Linked DNA regions of Homo sapiens: region 2 is linked to region 1. The links come from fine-mapping of genetic effects on gene expression. A gene starts in region 1. The other region holds a variant in brackets. All regions are shown on one strand. Distances are between the middles of the regions.

What was found. PIP is the estimated chance that this variant, and not a neighbour inherited with it, causes the effect.
Region 2: its variant is fine-mapped to the expression of CITED4 in whole blood (INTERVAL, PIP above 0.99).

What each region holds. Positions count from the first base shown.
Region 1 is chr1:40,859,626-40,864,994 of GRCh38, forward strand. CITED4 (Cbp/p300 interacting transactivator with Glu/Asp rich carboxy-terminal domain 4) reads right to left here and starts at 2,738. Exons shown (of 1, transcript NM_133467.3): 1 at 1,429-2,738. The coding sequence starts at 2,502. The coding sequence ends at 1,948. LOC124904157 (a long non-coding RNA gene) reads left to right here and starts at 2,759. Exons shown (of 3, transcript XR_007066025.1): 1 at 2,759-3,485; 2 at 4,543-4,770. RefSeq lists silencers at 2,525-2,604, 2,765-2,964 and an enhancer at 3,065-3,124.
Region 2 is chr1:40,920,620-40,925,988 of GRCh38, forward strand. No RefSeq gene overlaps it. Among named protein-coding and RNA genes, the nearest start is that of CTPS1, 56 kb to the right of the region's middle. The variant T/C (reference allele first, on the strand shown) is at 2,929.

The sequences.
Region 1 (5,369 bases):
CCTCCAGTGTCCCTGGAATCCATGCTCTCCTAGAGAATGCCCCACCACCGCAGCGTCTCTGACCCGGCCTCCTCCCTGACTTCAATCTCTTTCCCAGCTTTTCTCCCACATCTCAGAAGCACCTAGGGATTTTTCCAGAGTGAACTGCAGAGGGTGGCCAGGAACTCACGCTGGTGCTCAGGACTCTGAGGCCAAATCCTGCCAGGCCTGGGCACACTCCACAACCCTCATGTGTAGAATGAGGACTGTGCTTGCCTCACGAAGTTGTCGTAAAGCCATTCGACCTTTCTTGTACCTTCTAGACACCCCACACCTTCCCCAAACATTCATCGTACTTGTGTGCCTTCCTGCCTTGAAACAGGCTCCTCTCCTAAAAACATATTCATCACTCAAGGCTCTGTTCATCACGTCAAATGTCACCGCTTCCCTGAAGCCTGAACTGACCCCAACCTCAACTATTAATAGCTGAAACTGCTCCCTTCTCTGGGTGTGCCCGCTTGGCCGGTCTATTGTCCTGGCTGTACAATCCCCCCCAGAACTATTTTCTTTTTTCTTGAGGAGTCTCGCTCTGTTGCCAGGCTGGAGTGCAGTGGCATGATCTCGGCTCACTGCAACTTCTGCCTCCTGGGTTCAAGCGATTCTCCTGCCTCAGCCTCCCGAGTAGCTGGGACTATAGGCGCGCACCACCATGCCCAGCTAATTTTTATATTTTTAGTAGAGACGGGGTTTCACCATATTAGCCAGGATGGTCTCGATCTGTTGACCTCGTGATCTGCCCGTCTCGGCCTCCCAAAGTGCTGCTTAGCACTGTTTTCTAGAACTCATCACAGTCTTCCTTGCAGCAAGATTAGTTTGTTTTCAGGCCTATCACCCACCTCCTCCCACCTGGGCTGTGATTCCATGAGAACATGCACCAGGTTGACACAGGGCCTGGAATAAAATCAGCACCAATTTGTAGAATAATAATTGCCGTCACTTACTGAGAACTGCCCAGGTATTTGGCACTGTGCTAAAGGCAGCGTAACTACCTGAGGAGACGGGGACCATCTCCCTCTGGGAAACCGCCTCAAAAATCAGAACGGATGGTGTCTTGGGCAAAGGAGAGAGTCAGGGTCCAAAGCTAGGCTGTCTGAACTCGGTGCCACCCAGCTCCTCTCTGGCAGAGCACCAAGCTCCCCCCACCCTACCCTAGGAGCTGGGAAGCCCAGTGGGTTACCCCACCACCCAGTGGCAGCCTCTGCCCTCCAGGTTGTGACATAACAATTGCACAACCCACGAGATATTTTTGAAAGAAACTGTCGGTTTCCTCTCCTGGGCACTGCTGGGGACTGTGGCCCCCATGCCATCCAGTGTCTTCAGCAACCTTGGGACTTTGGAAGCTAAATATAGTCAGGGCTCGGGGTGATAAGGAAATGAAAACGGCAAGACTGTAAAGTGACCCAGTTTTATTTTGGTTTTGGAGGCCAGACAGGGCATTGCTCCACGGGTTCGGGCTGTACAACCTTCCCCTCCTTGAGGTGGGAGGCCCAGCAACCACAGGGCCCAGGCAGCGGGGTGGGAGGCTCAGGAGATGGTGGCTCTGGGGACCCGATCCCGAGGAGAGAGGGGGCAGCAGGCAGAGGCCTGCAATGGCTCAGATTGGGGGAAGAGGGCGGCGAGGGGGAGAGGACACGATCCAAGAACCAGAGTCCGAAAGCTGAAGCTGGTCCGGTCTCTTTCACTTTACGGCCGAGGCTGGGGTCAGAGAAGTGAAGCCAAACTGTCCTCCCGCAGGAGGCAAGGCCTGGAGGGACGCCAGGGTCCCAGTCCGGTGCCGGGCCCTGCGCACACAGCCGCCGCCTCCACCCTCGCGGAGGGCGCGCGCGGGGCCCAGTCGCTGGGTGCAGGGTCCGGCGGGCAGTCGGGCCCTTTCTCCTCTCCGGCACGCCGGGCGGGCGCCGGCCGCCCTCAGCAGCTCACGGAGCCGGCGGGCGGCGCGGACCCCAAGTCCGAGAAGCAGTCGAACTCGCTCTGGCCCAGGAAGAGCTCGGGCAGCTCGCGCACGCGGTGCAGCCCGAGCTCCAGCTCCAGCGACGTCAGCGCCTCCTCGTCGATGAGTTCGGCGTCCATGCCGCCCAGGGCGTGCGCGGGCGGCGGCGGGGCTGCGGCGCTTGGCGCCGGCTGCGGGCCCGGGGGGCCTCCCGGAGCGTTGGGGGGCGCGGCCGCGCGGCCGGGGTACGGCGTCGCCACAGGCTGCAGGTGCGCGATGCCCGCGGCCGGCGGAGGCACGGCCGGAAAGGGCTGGAAGGAGGACGGCGGCCCGAAGGCCCCGTACGCCAGGGCCCCGGGTTGGCGGGGCGGCGGCGGCCCCAGCGGAGCCCCCCGCGGCCTCAGCCCACTGTCCAGGCCCGGGCCCGCGTACGGCGGCAGAGTCCGGAGCGCATGAGGGCCATGGGCGGCCGCGGCGGACGGCGGCCTCTGCACCAGGCGGTAGCCCTCGGCGAGCATCAGGTGGTCGGCCATGGCGGCAGGCCGGCTGCCTGCGGGGACAGCGCGCGGTGGTCAGCGCCGGCTCCCCCGGCCCGGGCCAGCGGCTGCTCTGCGGCGGGAGACCCGGGCACCGTGCGGTCCCTGCAGCTCGGCCGGGCGGAGCAAAACCAAACCCGACTGGTGCCCCGGCCCAGCCCACTACTGCGCACCTTGCGGCCGCAGCCTGGGGTCACAAAGGCCCGCAACCTGTAGTGCTCCGAAACCTCCGCGTCGCGTAGCTGGGCTCGGCGTATTCTTATACCCAGAGGCGGGGCTTCCCCGCCCTCGGACGCTCATTGGCTGGGCGAGACGCTTCTGGGCGGGCCGCGCACGCCTGCATCTAGGTCTTGGCCCCGCCCCTCCCACTGGAACCCCGCCCCTTGGGACTCCGGCCACGCCCCAGGCTCTGAGCACCGCCCTGGGGCGGGGTATTTGGCACTTTCGGAGGGATTCGGTCTGGCCCTCAGGGCTTCGGAATCGGACTTGGCTGGGGTAGAGCTTGAACTGACCAGAAGGTGGGGTGGGAGGGCCAGAGTTTTAGGCCCCCCAAGAGCTGCAGGATGTCAGGCCTACGCAACCTTTTAACTTTCCAGGTAGAGACCGAGGCTCAGTGGCGGAAGAGGCTTCCTGGAAATACACAGCAAAGCCTTGATCAAAGTGAGACTGCACAGCTACACAGGGCGCATGCACCTTAGCGGTGCAGGGTCCCCGCAGGAGGTCAGCTGTCCATTCCCATAACCCCCAGGAGAGCCTGTTGCTCCCCCTCTAGTTCCCACTGCACCTTGTCTGTTGAAGCATGTACTTAGTTGTTATTAATTTATGGGCACGTCTCCTGAAGGACTTGTTCATCTTCTTCTTCTCAGCACTTGGCCCAGAGCCTGGCCCAGAGCAGGCTTTTAGTAAAAGCTGAGTGAATGAACTAATGATGGAATGAATTGCAACTCTCAGCTGAGCCTCAGTTTCTTCATCTGTAAAAGGTAAAGAACAGCAGCACTGACCCTTTGTGAGGGGTAAGTGAGGGCATGTGTGCACAGTGCCTAGCACAGTGCCTGGTATGTGGTAGATGCTCAAAAGTGTCCCTTAGATGAAAGAAAGGCTATTTAAGTTCTTTTTTTTTTTTTTTTTGAGACGGAGTCTCGCTCTTTCGCCCAGGCTGGACTGCAGTGGCGCTGTCTTGGCTCACTGCAAGCTCCGCCTCCCGGGTTCACGCCATTCTCCTGCCTCAGTCTCCCGAGTAGCTGGGACTACAGGCGCCCGCTACCACGCCCGGCTAATTTTTTTTGTATTTTTAGTAGAGACGGGGTTTCACCGTGTTAGCCAGGATGGTCTCGATCTGCTGACCTCGTGATCCGCCCGCCTCGGCCTCCCAAAGTGCTGGAATTACAGGCGTGAGCCACCGCGCCCGGCCAAGGCTATTTAAGTTCTGTCCCAAAGGGCCTTCTCTTGATAACAGCAATAATAACTTGGACTTTTAAAGTGCTTTACATTCTACAAGTATTTTGTTGGGGGCAGGGCATGGATTATCAGCCCCATTTCAGTGATAAGGAGAAGCACACAAAGAGAAAGTGGCTGTCCTGAGGTCACAGGCAGCCAGAGTTAGCGTGTGAATGCCATGTGTTTTCCAAGTCCTTAGGGCAACTGGAGTCTTTCCTGTGGCCAGGAGACAGCCTCCCAGAACCTTACCCTCCACGCATTTGACACTCTCTCTCCCTTCTCTGACCTTCCCCCGACCTGTGGCATCCTTGGGACTTCCTGGAACTTGGGTTTATCCAGTTGATGTAGAGGGGAGAGCCCTAGAGTGAGAATTCAGGGGCCCAAGGTCTTTTCTTCCCTCTTTCTTCTTATTTTTTTAAATAGAGAAGGGAGCGGGGGGGAGGGGCGGCGTGGGGGAGTGAGGAGGGCCTCAGGCTTATCTCGAATCCCTGGCCTCAAGTGACCCTCTCACCTCAGGCTTCCAAAGTGCTAGGATTACAGGCATGAGCCACTGCGCCCAGCCAGAGGCCCAAGTTCTAATCATATCTCTGCCACCCACAGGTGTGTGACCTCCACCACCAACCAGCTGTGACTGTTGAGTGTTGAGCGGGGAGTATTACTTGATTCCCCAGGGCCTCAGCTTTCTGCTCTGTGAAAGGGAGACGGTGATCTTGCCTGGTCAGCCTGAGAGCTTGTGGGTAGTGATAAATGACCATGGGTGTGGTCACATTTTTGCAAAGTGTAAAAAGCTACACCCTGGAATTTATTCTCCTGAATCTTTCTCTACAGGTAAGGCTTCTCACAGAAATTCTTAAACCTGGCCATGCCTCACACTTATCTGGAGATGTGGGGGGTAAGGGGTGGGTGAGTGGGGGCTTTGATAAAGACGGAAAATCTGCCCAATTTGGGAGATGAAAGTGAGAGGATTGCTTGAGCCCAGGAGCTCAAGACCAGCCTGGGAAACATAGTGAGACCGTGTCTCTACAAAAAGTTAAATAATTAGTTGGGCATAGTGGCATGTATCTGTAGTCTGAGCTACCCAGGAGGCTCAGGTGGGAGGATTAGCTGAGCCCTGGAGGTGGAGGCTGCAGTGAGCCATGATGGCACCACTGCACTCCAGCCTGGGCGACAGAGATCTTGTCTCAAAAAAATCAACAAGCAGGCCAGGTGAGTGGCTCACGCTTGTAATCCCAGCACTTTGGGAGGCCGAGGTAAGTAGATCCCTTGAGCTCAGGAGTTTGAGACCCCTGTTTCTGAAAAAATAAAAAATTAACTTGGCATGGTGGTGTGCACTTGTAGTCCTTGCTACTTGGGAGGTTGAGGTGGGAGGATCACTTGAACCTGGGAAGTTGAGGCTACAGTGAGCTATGATCACACCACTGCACTCC
Region 2 (5,369 bases), 61 kb after region 1:
GGGAATAGAGGTCACAGAGGAAAGGCCATGGTGAAGAGTTTGAATTTTCTGAGAGACAGGCATGGTCCAACACTTTGGGAGGCTGAGGTGGGTGGATTGCTTGAGCCCAGGAGTTTGAGGCCAGCCTGGGCAACATGGTGAAACCTGGTCTCTACAGTTTTGTGCGTGTATATGTATACACACACACACACACACATATATACACACATATATACACACATGTATATACATAATGTGTATTTATATGTATAAATTAGCCAGGCGTGGTGGCGCATGCTTGTAGTCCCACCTATTTGGGAAGCTGAGGTGAGAGAATCCCTTGAGCTTGGGAGGTTGAGGCTGCAGTGAGCCAAGATTGTGCCACTGCACTCCAGCCTGGGTGACAGAATGAGACTCTTTCTAAAAAAAAAAAAAAAAAAAAAAACCTTCCATGGGGTGTGACGGAAAGCGACTGTCCTGTCTGTGTGCCATGCCCATTCCTCCCACTGGACCTCTTGTCTGAATGGCCTCCCCAAGCTTCTCCAGCATCCTTGTTATACTTAGATTTCAGGACCCAAGGCCAGTCATGCTATCATTCTGGAGCCTTCTTTGTTTACTCCAGACCACATTCATCTCTTCTTCCAAATTCCTAAGATGGTACCTTGGGTCTTGGGGCTTGGCTAGACTTCAAATTCAAATTCTCAAACATGTACTCTGCCCCCATGTCATGCCTATCACTGTGCTGGTGCAACACGTAGGTAACTCATCCAAGCCTCGCCACCTTCCCATGAGGTTCAAATTATGCCCAGTTTTTACAGATGGGTAAACTGAGGCTTGGAGCAGTTAAGCAACTTATCTGTGGGCTCACATATAAGGAGTGGTGGAGGAAGGATTTGAATGCAGCATCTGATCCCCCAAGTCCAGCTTCGTTCTCACTAGCCCTCAGCCACTTCTGCCTTTACATAATTTGATCATGGTCTTCAGGGGTCCCCAGACCTGCCCCTAATCTCCTTCCGCATCTTCACTTCTGCACGACCCACAGCACCCAGGGATCACCGGAGTAGGCACCCTGCACTTCTCTATGCCCCCTGCCAGTGGGATGTGACACTTGCAGAGTGAATAAGCACCCCTAGGGTGACAGCCAAGGCTGCCCACACCTCTCTCCTCTCCTGCAGTGGGTTCCTACAGGGAGCCAGCAGCCATCCAGTGGAACAAGGGGCCAACACTTCAGAAGAAACTGCCATATGCTGGAGTTGTGTTATTGTCAATATGACTCTTTCTTCCAGGCCTGTGCATGATGGCATGGGAATAGTCATAACAACCTTTACTACAGCAACTCTTCATTGGCACTAGCCCATCTTAAGCTTCTCCTTTTTGGGTTAAATTCAGGATGTCAATAATAATAACAACAATAGTTTTTTTGTTGTTGTTGTTTGTTTGTTTGTTTTGAGACAGAACTCACTCTGTCACCCAGGCTGGATTGCTGTGAAGTGATCTCTGCTCACTGCAGCCTCAATCTCCCAGGCTCAAGTGATCCTCCCAACTTAGCCTCCCGAGTAGCTGGCACTACAGGTGTGCACCACCACACCCAGCTAATTTTTGTATTTTTTGCTGAGATGGGGTTTCGCCATGTTGCCCAGGCTGATCTCAAACTCCTGGGCTCAAACCCTCTGCCTGCTTGGGCCTCCCAGAGTGCTGGGATTACTTGCATGTACCGCTGTGCCTGGACAACAATAGCTATTTTATCAAAAATATGCAAAATGAAAGGAAGCTGCTGGGCACTTTATGTACCCTATCTTATTTAATCCTTATAGAAACCCTAGGATGCAGGTATGATTATTATGCCCATTTTACAGATATAGAAACTGAGTCTCAGGCAGGCAAAGCAACTTGCCTGAGGCCACAGAGCTGATAAATGCTGAAACTCAAATCCCAGCTCCACCCTGAGGCTGGTGGACCTCCAAGTCCTTGATCTCAACCTCTGCACCCAGTTCTACAACCAGATAGGTGTTCAGGAGGTCCAACACAGGCAGTGGATAGGTGAGGAAGGCTTAGTGACTGGGGCTCCTCAGAGAGGTGCATAAAACCAGGGAAACTCAAAGCACTGCAGGGACACTGGTCTGAGTTTCAGGAACCTGGGTCCAGATCCTGGCTTTGCCTCCTCCCAGCCGTGTGTCCTTGCTCATGTTGCCTACCCTCTCTGCACCTTTATTTCCTCAGCTGTGAAATGGGTTGATAATAGATTCGCCCTCCAAGCCTGGTGTAAGAAGGAAGTATGATAATGTCTGTGAACATGCTTTGAGGCCCTGAAGCACCACGCTTAGTGCATTATCATCCATTCCCTGGACTTCTAGAATGAGTGAACCGTGGGAGAATCAGGAACAGCATCGGGGGAAGGAGGAGAGGAAAGTGTCGGATCAGGCTTTTCTGGGTAGACAGAGGTAGGTAAATGTCTTGCTCAGCCAACCTCACATGACAAGAGGAACCTGCTAACTAGGTCACCTTGCAGGAGGAAAGAGCTATTCCGGGATCCGCCTGCAGTTGCAGAGCTGGAGCTGGGGAGCTGAGCTGGCTATTTCAGGGGCGGCACAGAAAGCCCGTCCGACCGCTCTCCCTTGGATCTCGGCCCTGCCTTGGGCCTAGGGCCTTGGGCCTTGAGAGGCAGGGAGATTCTAGTGGACGCTGTGCTGGCACTCTCTGCATGGCTGCCCTCAGGCAGGGGGAACCATCAGGCCATCTGGAACCATCACAACACGATCTTCCCCATCCCCTGGGAACCACCATCCCAGGCAGCTGTGGGTGAGGGTGGCAAGATGCTAGACTTGCATTTCTCAGCCTGACTGGGAGTCTCAGCTCCTGAATGCAATGACCCTGCAACGCTGGGCAGTTTGCTCCAGCATTCTGGGCCTGGGTTTCCTCACTTGTAACATGGGGGTAATGGTGCTTATG[T/C]TCCAGGACTGTCTGAGGATTAAATGAGATAATGATATAAAGCACCAAGCACAGGGTCTGGCCCAGAGGAAGCACTTGATAAATGGGGATTGTTCCTAACTGAGCTTCTGTGGCATTCTATGCTGCAATAGTGATGGCGGGGAGGGGACACCTGAAAGAAGGCTGCACCTTGTGGGATGGGAATGGGGGCGGAAGGAGAGATTATGCTGGAGAAATTGAGCGTTTGAGACTGCTTAAAGAGAAGAATCCTTTTGGGAGGAGCCTGGGACTGTGAGGTCAGTGTGACCCAGGTGAGAATTGCTCAGCTCCCTGCAGGTTGGGCAGGTATGTCTTTACCTTCTGAGCTTCAGGTGCCTTGTCTGCAAAATGAGGCTGAAAATACTTAGCTCCTATAATCTGGCAAGAAATAAGTGAATTAACATAAAGCCTTTATTTAGCATAGTGCTTGGCACCTAGTAGGTGTTCAAGAAATGCCAGCTATTATTGTGTTATCTCATTTAGTCCTCATAGCTACCCTATAAAGAAAGTATTACTATCTTCATTTTATAGATGAGGAAATGGAGGCACAGAGAGGTTAAGTAATTTATGCAGGGTCTCATAGTGAAGAAGCTGTTTTACTAAGATTTGAATTTAGTCTGACCTTGGAATTCGCACTTTTAACTACCACTTCCCATGCTTGTGTGTGTGTGTGTGAGAGAGAGAGAGAGAGAGAAAGTATGTATAGCTATATGCGGATATGTGAAACAAAAAGATGAAAAGTGCCTAGCATGATATGGTTACATAGTCAGTGATCAGTAACCAGCAGCTGTTGTTACTGTAATTGTTATTCCCGTCATGACCATTGTTCACAATTTAATTGGCAATTATGAAACAGGAGTGGCCGGTGAAGGTAGAAAGAGTTCTAAAATATTAGAAAAGGCAACAATCCCATTCTCAAAGGACTTGTCAAAAGGAAAAGGCAAAAGAATAGTCATAAAGTCATAAGTAACTTTCTTGTAGCATTCTCTATAATTAGGAAAAATGGGGAAAATGTATATACCGAAGAATAACGGGGTGGTTACGTAAATTATGGTTGATCAGTGGCTCACACCTGTAATCCCAGCACTTTGGGAGGCTGAGGCGGGCGGATCACATGAGGTCAGGAGTTCAAGACCAGCTTGGCCAACATGGCGAAACCCCATCTCTACTAAAAATGCAAAACTTAGCCGGGTGTGGTGGTGCATGCCTGTAATCCCAGCTACTCAGGAGGCTGAGGCAGGAGAATCGCTTGAACCCAGGAGGTGGAGGTTGCAGTGAACTGAGGTCGCGCCACTGCATTCCAGCCTAGGCAATAGAGTGAGACTCCATCTCAAAAAAAAAAAAAAAGAAAGAAAAGAAAATGACACATTCATTTAGAATGATGATACAAGGACTTGACATGGAAAATGTTTATTACGTAATTACTATTACTGGGGAAATGCTGGATATAAAATTCTATTTCTGCTCTAATTATACCTCTGTTAAAATATCGACTGTATGTAGAGAGGAGCTAGAAAGAATATGCAGTGTCAATGTGATAAATGCTGGCATTGAGTATTTCTCTCTTTGTCATTGATTTAATAACTCAACCATCATTTATTAAGCACGTACTAAGGTCGGTCAGCATGTTAGGCATGGCTATTAGTATGGATTATATTAGGCTGCAGGAAGACTTAACGAGAAAAGAGGTTTTAGTGCCTCTCAGAACATTCAGCGGGGAAGCAGTTCAAAGCCGATGTGGCAGCTTCAGGGTGTCAGGGACCATGGCTCGCTCTCTGGGGGGGCTCTGGCATTTCTAGGGAGTTACCTTTTTCCACATGGTCCTATGGGGTACACCACCATGTCTATGTTCCAGCCAGCAGGGTAAGGAGGAGAAGCGGAGGGCATGCTTCTTCCAGGAAAGGTCTCACTGAAGTTGCTCACACCACCTCCCTCCTTATGCATTGGCCAGAACCTTGTTGCTTGGACACCCCTAGCTGCAAGCTAGACTAAGACACGTCAGGACTTTGGGAGGCCATTAGCCTTGCTAAAAACAGGTCCCAATTACTGCAGAAGAAGGGAGAACAGCAACAGGGGCACCCCTGCAGCATAACAGATTAAGTAAGTCAAAGCCACAATCCTGGAAGAACCCAGTGCCCAGTGAAAGTGACATACACTGTCAAGAAATTGGCTGGGTGCAGTGGCTCATACCTGTAATCTCAGAGCTTTGGGAAGTTGAGGCAGGAGGATCACTTGAGCCCAGGAGTTCAAGCCTGGGCAACAGGAAAAAAAATTTTTTTAATTAGCTGGGGATGGTGGTGTGTGCTGTAATCCCAGCTACTCCAGAGGCTAAGGGACGAGAATGGCCTGAGCTGGGGAGATAGAGGGTGAAGTGAGCTATGATTGCACCACTGCATTCCAGCTGGGGCAAATAATTATAAGAC